Linked DNA regions of Homo sapiens: regions 1 and 3 are each linked to region 2. The links come from fine-mapping of genetic effects on gene expression. A gene starts in region 2. Each other region holds a variant in brackets. All regions are shown on one strand. Distances are between the middles of the regions. Region 1 has its middle 100 kb from the start of ADGRG2. Region 2 holds the start of PDHA1 (pyruvate dehydrogenase E1 subunit alpha 1). Region 3 overlaps MAP3K15 (mitogen-activated protein kinase kinase kinase 15).

The links. PIP is the estimated chance that this variant, and not a neighbour inherited with it, causes the effect.
Region 1: its variant is the best candidate, but not a certain one, in a credible set for the expression of PDHA1 in lung (TOPMed, PIP 0.50).
Region 3: its variant is the best candidate, but not a certain one, in a credible set for the expression of PDHA1 in blood mononuclear cells (TOPMed, PIP 0.77).

What each region holds. Positions count from the first base shown.
Region 1 is chrX:19,221,093-19,223,852 of GRCh38, forward strand. No RefSeq gene overlaps it. Among named protein-coding and RNA genes, the nearest start is that of ADGRG2, 100 kb to the left of the region's middle. The variant T/C (reference allele first, on the strand shown) is at 1,618.
Region 2 is chrX:19,342,698-19,345,457 of GRCh38, forward strand. PDHA1 (pyruvate dehydrogenase E1 subunit alpha 1) reads left to right here and starts at 1,230. Exons shown (of 11, transcript NM_000284.4): 1 at 1,230-1,397. The coding sequence starts at 1,341.
Region 3 is chrX:19,368,180-19,370,939 of GRCh38, forward strand. MAP3K15 (mitogen-activated protein kinase kinase kinase 15) reads right to left here. Exons shown (of 29, transcript NM_001001671.4): 25 at 875-1,040. Among named protein-coding and RNA genes, the nearest start is that of PDHA1, 26 kb to the left of the region's middle. The variant T/TA (reference allele first, on the strand shown) is at 1,573.

The DNA.
Region 1 (2,760 bases), 120 kb before region 2:
TGTTCCTTTTGCCATGCAAAGGCTCTTTAGTTTAATTAGGCCCCAGATATTTATCTTTGTTTTTATTGCATTGGCTTTTGGATTCTTGGTCATGAAATCCTTGCCTAAGCCAATGTCTAGAAGGGTTTTTCCAATGTTATCTTCTAGAATTTTTATAGTTTCAGGTCTTAGGTTTAAGTCCTTAATCCATCTTGAGTTGATTTTTGTACAAGGTGAGAGATGAGGATCCAGTTTCATTCTCCTACATGTGGCTAGCCAATAGCCCCAGCACCAAAAGGGTGTCCTTTCCCCACGTTTTGTTTGTGTTTTCCCCACTTTATGTTTTGTTTGCTTTGTCAAAGATCAGTTGGCTGTAAGTACTTGGGTTTATTTCTGGGTTCTCTATTCTGTTCCATTGGTCTATGTACCTATTTCTATACCAGCACCATGCTGTTTTGGTGACAATGGCCTTATAGTATAGTTTGAAATCGGGTAGTGTGATGCCTCCAGATTTGTTCTTTTTGCTATGCGGGCTCTTTTTAGGTTCCATATGAATTATAGAATTGCTTTTTGTAATTCTGTGAAGAATGATGGTGGTATTCTGATGGAAATTGTGTTGAATTTGTAGATTGCTTTTGGCAGTATGGTCATTTTCACAATATTGATTCTACCCATCCATAAGCATGGGAGGGCGAGACAAGACCGCTTGAAAATTTGCCCAAGGCTATCTGCCTCCCAGCTTTGAGAGAAAAGGGCTTTAATTCTTCCCCCACCTGTGAAGTCTGCACTCTGGATTTGTGTCCTCCCCCAAGTTCTGGCCAGGAGGCTTCTCACCCCATTTAAATTGTTACAAAGTTCAGCTGGAGAATTCCTTCTCCCTGTGGAGTTTAACCACCTGCTCCTCTGGCCACCCTCCCAATGGATTCCTGTGGTACCAGGCAGGAATGGGCTGCCTGGGGACCCAGCGAGCTCCCAGGGCTATTCTGCTGCTTCCTCTACCCTTGTATTTCGCTCCGCTCTCTAACTTGACTCAGCCCCAGGTAAAGTAGGAAACTTCTCCCACAAACAGACCTTCTGCTTCTCCAGTGCGGGGGTGTGTTCGGCAGAGGAGGGTCTCCCTTTCCCACTTCCGCAGTTGGGGCACTCATAGTTTTGGGGGGTCTCCCGGGTCCTGCAGGAGCAGTTCACTTCATTCAAAGGGTCTGTGGGTCCTCCGGGGACCCACAGAACTGCTGCTTCGTTCTTGCAGTCAATCTGGAGCTAAAATTCACAGTGCAAGCCTCCACACGCTGCTCTATCTGGAGCTGCAATCTAGTCCTGCCTCCCATCCACCATGATCCCCTGAATCAGTTGTTTATATTTTTAACTACTGATCTATGGTTACATTCTTAATATGGTTCATTCTTGTCACTTTTCTTTCTTTGAATTAATCTTGTTATATGTTTGCCTATTTTGGATTTTTTAAGAACTAAATTTTGGCTTTGTCAACATTCCTTTGTCAACAGAAAAACATTCTGTTTTTCATTTCCTTATTTTGGTTATTATATTTATAATTTCTTCCTTTTACCTTCTTCGGGTTATCCTGTTCTTTTCTCACTACTGAAGTTGGATACTTAGCTCCTTATTTTACAAATGAAT[T/C]CTACTAAATAATAAAGGAACTAACAATTCTAATCACATACAAAGTATTCTAGATTATAGAAATAGAGGGAACACTTGCCAACTCATTTTGAGGTTAGCATAACCTCGATACTAAAACTTGACAGAGAGGATATGAGAGAACATGGCAAAGGAAAATTACAAGCCTAGTTTTCTCAGAAATATGTAGATGCAAAAATCCTAGACAAAATCTAGCAATATACAAAAATGACAAAAATGACCACGATGACTTTTCCTCAGCAGTTTAGGGTTTAATTGATTAGAAAATCAATTAATACAATTCTTCATAGTACCAAAATAAATAAGAAAGGGCACATGGTAATTTCTATAGATGCAGAAAAACATTTTTTGAGGACATTATCCATTAATTATAAAAATTCTTAGCAAGTTAAGAAGGAAATTTCCTTTGCTGGATATAGAGTATCTACAAAACTATACAGCAAATATCATAATTAATATTGAAACATTAAATGTATTCCCCCCTTAAAATCAGGAACAACAAAAAGTGGCAGCTATAACCACTTCTTTTCTTTTTTGTTTTGAGACAGGGTCTCACTCTGTGGCCCAGGCTCGAGTGCAGTGGTGCAATCACAGCTCACTGCAGCCTTGGCCTTCCGGCTCAAGTGATCCTCTCACCTCAGCCTCCCGAGTGGCTGGGACTGCAGGTGTGTGCCGCCACTTGGCTAATTTTTAAATTTTGTGTAGAGATGGGGTCTTGCTATATTGTCCAGGCTGAGCCACTTCTTTTCAACACAGGACTGCATATTCTAACCAGTACAGTAAGAAAAGAGAGAGAAACAAAAGGTATAAGGATTAAAAAGAAACAAAAATGTATTGGTCACAGACGACATTATGGTATGCATAGAAAGCTAAAAAAAAAAAACTAGAATTAATAAGAGAATTTAGTAGTTTTGCTGTAGCAAAAAAAAAATCAACCTACAAAAAGCAATTGCATTTATTTATTTATTCATTCATTTATTGAGATGGAGTCTCACTCTGGCACCCAGGTGGAGTGCAGTGGCGTGATCTCGGCCCACTGAAACCTTCACCTCCTGGGTTCAGGCAGTTCTCCTGCCTCAGCCTCCCAAGTAGCTGGGACTACAGGCATGTGCCATCACGCCCCAC
Region 2 (2,760 bases):
ACTGGCCTGAAAATGTGTGAAGACATATCCAATCCTCTCTGGTTTTACTGTTCATCCAATTTTCTGTTCTCCTCCTGGCAGGAGGATTATATTTCACCTTGTGGAACTCAGACATGGTCGGGTAACTAGCTCTGGTCCGTGAAAATTGAGAGGAAGTGACATGTGTCACTTCTGGGCAGAAGCTTTGAGAGCCGGTTTAAATGATCCCTTTTCTCTTCATCCATGAGACAAGCTAAGTTCCAGAGAGAGGGTGCCACGCTGTGAGGGACCTGTGTTACGAGTACGATGGCTCGCGTCACTTCAAATTCTTGAAATCACTGAAATTTGGAGGTCAGTTGTTACATCATAACCCAGCCAATTCTAGTTAGCCTGTTTTCTTCCTAACTTCTTTAATCGTTCTTCATAAGTCACAATCGCAGCCCCTCACCGTTCTGACCACTGTCCCCTGGATTCCACTCAGTTTACTCATTATCCCCCTTAAAATGTGGAGCCCAAATCTGAACCCGGAACCCCAGGTGCAATCCCACTAGGACACAACACAATGGGTTCCTGAGCCCTTTGATCCTCTGAATAGAGCCCCTTGTTGCTTTGGTGTTTTGTCTCTGTGTGTGCTTTTATCATCGGCTGAGCCACGCTGTTAACTCGCAGTGAGCCTGTGAACCAATAACTAGAGAAAAAAGATTTTTCCCATTGTCCTCTCGACATATATTGGGAAACAAATTTTTTGATCCGCGTTCAAGTAGACAGGGCAGAACTGTCCAACTGCTACGTGATCTTTTAAAGACAAAGTTAGTGGCAGACCATTTACAGAAACCAGATGTTCTGTCTTTTGGCTCTGAGCATGCTGCTAATCTTCATCATCTAGTGTACTGAACGAGATGTACTGAACGAGGGCTGCAGAGCTGCAGCACCGGCAGGAGTAGGCGCTCGGTAGGACGGGGCCTGCACAACCTCCCCGGTAGTCAGCAGAGCGGAATCTAGGAAGGCTCCTTTCCCGCGGCGCCCTGGAGGCGGGGGCCCCACCTTCCCACGCAGGCGCTATCAAGCCCCGCCTCCTCACCCGCCCGCGGCGTGGCGTCGGAAAGAGCCCTCAGCCCCTCCCTCTCTGGCGCTGATACCCAATGGGCAGCCTCAGGCCTTTAGCGGGGGCGGGGCACCCCCTGGACGCCGTTCTGGTTGGCCCGCGGCCCGGCGCAGCGCATGACGTTATTACGACTCTGTCACGCCGCGGTGCGACTGAGGCGTGGCGTCTGCTGGGGCACCTGAAGGAGACTTGGGGGCACCCGCGTCGTGCCTCCTGGGTTGTGAGGAGTCGCCGCTGCCGCCACTGCCTGTGCTTCATGAGGAAGATGCTCGCCGCCGTCTCCCGCGTGCTGTCTGGCGCTTCTCAGAAGCCGGTGAGACCTCCCGGGCGGGCCGGGATGGGGCGCGAGTGGGGCTGAGGCGGGGCCGGAGGGCAGGGCGGGCCAGGCCGGGCCACCCAGAGCGGGGTGGAAGGCGCCAGGGGAGCCGGGGAGCCTTTACTTCGCCTCCGCGCCCTGCATTCCGTTCCTGGCCTCGGGAGAAGCGGCACGGACCGGGATCACGCCAAGGTCCGTGTGAACTTCCCCCTTCTCGACACCCACCTCCCGCCCCCGGGCCCAGCTGTGCGCCAGGCGAAGTCGGTGTGCTCAAGAGGTGCCTGTTGGGTTACAGGACACGGAAAGGGTGGCCTCGGCCTCCTTCGAGTCTCCAATTGACCCCACTCATTTCGGATCTTCTAACTTAATTTCTCTTGACCGAGAGGCTTTGTAATAGCGTAGAATCTGGAGACAGGGTGGCTTCGTTCAAACAGCACCCTCACCATTGACTAGCCCTGTGACCTTGAGCAAGTTTTTAAACGTCCCGGGGACCCGGTTTCCTAAAATGTTTGCTCGAAGTGGAGTTAATCTCTAAATGGAGATAAGAGTTATCTCTGAAATGTTATCAGTTAACTCTAAAATGGAGATAATAAGAGTCCCCACCTCTTGGGGTTGTCTTGAGGATTCAACGAGTGACACGTGTGGAAACGATTCCAAATAGCACCTGGCACATAATCGATAACATGTGTGTTGAATAGTGTTATTTATTGAGTCTCCAGTTCGGTATACATTTCTTGAACACCTGTGCTCAGTTCTGAGGCGGGTTCACAGAAGGTCAGCCTCTTCAGAAACAAACTTCCTCCTCTTCCCTCTCCCTCAACATCTGAGCTTTTCTTGGCAGTGAGTTCAGGAGCGCCGAAGCAGAACTCAGAGGACGCTGCCCTCCCCTCCCCTTACCTACACATTCTTAGGGTACAAGTAGCTAAAGCAAAGAGCAACGATGCTTGAGGGGTGGGGGGTAGAGTTTAGCACTATTTCATGGCCTCAGCATTTAGAGGTGCCTAACACCTGAGCTAGCATTCTGACCCCCCTAGGCACAGTGAGGTCGTGTTAATTGGTGTAACTGCAGGCCTCGGGATTCTGGTATTTCCCCCAGGACTTGATACCGCTCTACTTAGTACAGGCAGAGATTGTCAAAAGGTAAGAGGTATGCCCCTCTAGGAATCCTGTTGCCTAAAATAATGACAAAACTGCCGGGTGCGGTGGCTCAGGCCTGTAATCCCAGCATTTTGGGAGGCTGAGGCAGGTGGATCACCTGAGGTCAGAAGTTCGAGATCAGCCTGGCCAACATGGTGAAACCCCGTCTCTACTAAAAATACAAAATTAGCCGGTCGTGGTGGCGGGCTCCTGTAATCCCAGC
Region 3 (2,760 bases), 25 kb after region 2:
TTGCCCAGGCTAGAGTGCAATGGCACGATCTCAGCTCACTGCAACCCCCACCTCCCGGATTCAATCGATTCTCCTGCCTCAGCTTCCCAAGCAGCTAAGATTACAGGCGTGCGCCACCATACCTGGCTAATTTTGTAGTTTTAGAAGAGATGGGGTTTCACCATGTTGGCCAGGCTGTCTCAAACTCTTGACCTTAAGTGATCCACTCACCTCGGCCTCTCAAAGTGTTGGGATTACAGGCGTGAGCCACCACGCCCATCCACTTCACAAATATTAAGCACCTACTATGTGCCAGGAAGTGAACAAAACAGACCAGTGCATTGGAGGAATATGATGGTGATGCCAGGGTTCCCTGGTTGGGAAGCTAGTCCACTAATGCCCGTCTAGGGATCATGACAAATCACATGGAAGAAATGACAACAGGACAAACTTCCTCGGGGTCGGGATTATGGGATGTACATCCACTGATGAAGTGCTAACCAACCCCCAAACCCTGCTACTTCTGCAGGGGCAGGCTGCTGAGCCTGCGAGACCCACACACCATGCCAGGGGCCCCGTCTTGGTGAAAAGAGAGAAAGAATTCACAGATGCTGCTGCCTTTAGTATGAGTAATTTCTGTGTGGTCTGGGGCAAGGTACTATATATACCTCTCTGATTCTGAGTTTTTTTTTTTTTTTTTTTAAAGGAAGGCATTCCTCTAGTCCCTCAATTGAGGCTGAGAATATGCGCCCTTGCCTAGTTCGTGGATGATGAAGCTGCTTTTTCCTAAGACCTGGGTGAGATGGTCAACAATAAAGCCAATTAATCAGCATCTTGGTGGCTCAGGCCACTGTCCCAGCGCCTGCTCCCAGAGGAGGGCCCAGAAGCTCCTCACCTGTTGGTCTCCTGTCTGAGCTCACCCAGCTGGAGGCTCAGGTGCTGCTGGTGGGGCTGGGCCTCCTGGCCAGGTCCGGTGGCTGGGGGATAGCCCTCTTCCGCTTCATCCATGTCCTTATCTACCCCTTCAGTCTCACAGGTAGGCTCAAAGTGGGCTCGGAGCTCTGCAAATCACACAAGACATGACAATGGTGAGCAAACCAGGCCAGTGGGGCCTGGGGTCGCAGACACCCAGGTCAGCAAACCGGGCTGTTCAGAAGCTGGCCCAGCCCGTGCCATGCTCCATTAGGGGACTGCTGACTTTACAAATGGAGAAGAGACTGTTCCATTTGGTTCTCTGCAGCGTAAAGTTGATCACGCCAGTTTCCACAGGAAGAAATTGAGGCTTAAGGATATGAAGTGAACCAAGGCCAGCGTTCAAAAGGTACAACCAGGCCAGGAGCAATGGCTTACACCTGTAATCCAAGCACTTTGGGAGGCTGAGGCAGGCAGATCACTTGAGGTCAGGAGTTTGAAACCAGCCCGGCCAACATGGTGAAACCCCATCTCTACTAAAAAATATATACAAAAATTAGCCAGGTCCAGGCGCAGTGGCTCACGCCTGTAATCCCATCACTTTGGGAGGCTGAGGCGGGCAGATCACAAGGTCAAGAGATCAAGACCATCCTGGCCAACATGGTGAAACCCCGTCTCTAC[T/TA]AAAAAAAATTAGCTGGGTGTGGTGGCGCGCACCTGTAGCCCCAGCTACTCCGGAGGCTGAGGCAGGAGAATTGCTTGAACCTGGGAGATGGAGGTTGCAGTGAGGCGAGATCGCATCATTGCACTCCAGCCTGGGTGACAGAGCAAGACTCTGTCTCAGAAAAAAAAAAAAAGAAAAGAAAGAAATAAGTAGAGCCAGGCTGCCACCCAAGCCTGTGCCGTTTTACTACAGAAGGTGTCTGCTTGGAGTGGGAGAGGAATTAAGCACTGGGGTTTCCCAAGCCTCTCCTGCAGCTGAGCCTGGGCTACACAGTGCATTCGGGAGGGTGGGCTGGAGCCAAACAGCAAGGAGCTGAAGGAAAGGGGGAAACCATGATGGCGACAGAATGGGCTGTAAAGCCTCCCTTAGCAGGAAGAAGTCACCAGAGAAGGAGAATCAACTTTGGTAACATTTCAAAAAGGAAATTGACAAAAACCAAAAACTTCTGTAACTACTACATGATGATTCAGAGAGAGGAATCTGAGCCACTGTATTGTCAGTTACCCAAGAAACATTCCTGAGTGCACGATGAAGGGGATACCAGAGGACTGGAGGATCCTTCCCCTCTGGCCCCATGCTCCCTTTTAATTTAATATTATTTATGTATTTGTTTATTTTTATTGAGACGGAATCTCACTCTGTTGCCCAGGCTGGAGTGCAGTGGCGTGATCTCGGCTCACTGCAACCTCCACCACCCGGGTTCAAGCGATTTTCCTGCCTCAGCCTCCCGAGTAGCTGGGATTACAGGCACGTGCCACCAAGCCTGGCTAATTTTTTGTATTTTTAGTAGAGACGGGGTTTCACTATGTTGGCCAGCCTGGTCTTGAACTCCTGACCTCAGCTGATCTGCCCACCTCGTCCTCCCAAAGTGCTGGGATTACAGGCATGAGCCACCGCGTCCGGCCCCATGCTCCCTTTTGAGATTGTGAGTTATAGTTTATGTGTAGTCACCTTCATCATGCTTCAGGGACACGTAAATACAGCACCACGAGATGCTCTCAGAACTACAGAATCAGCCCCGGAAGAAGTCTATGACAACATGCATTTAATTCCAAGGAAGTAGATAACCAAGATGGAAAAGAGAAAAGCAACAACTGTTGAATGAAGAGGATATTTCTTATCTTTTCACGGCCTAAAGCTGACCTTGA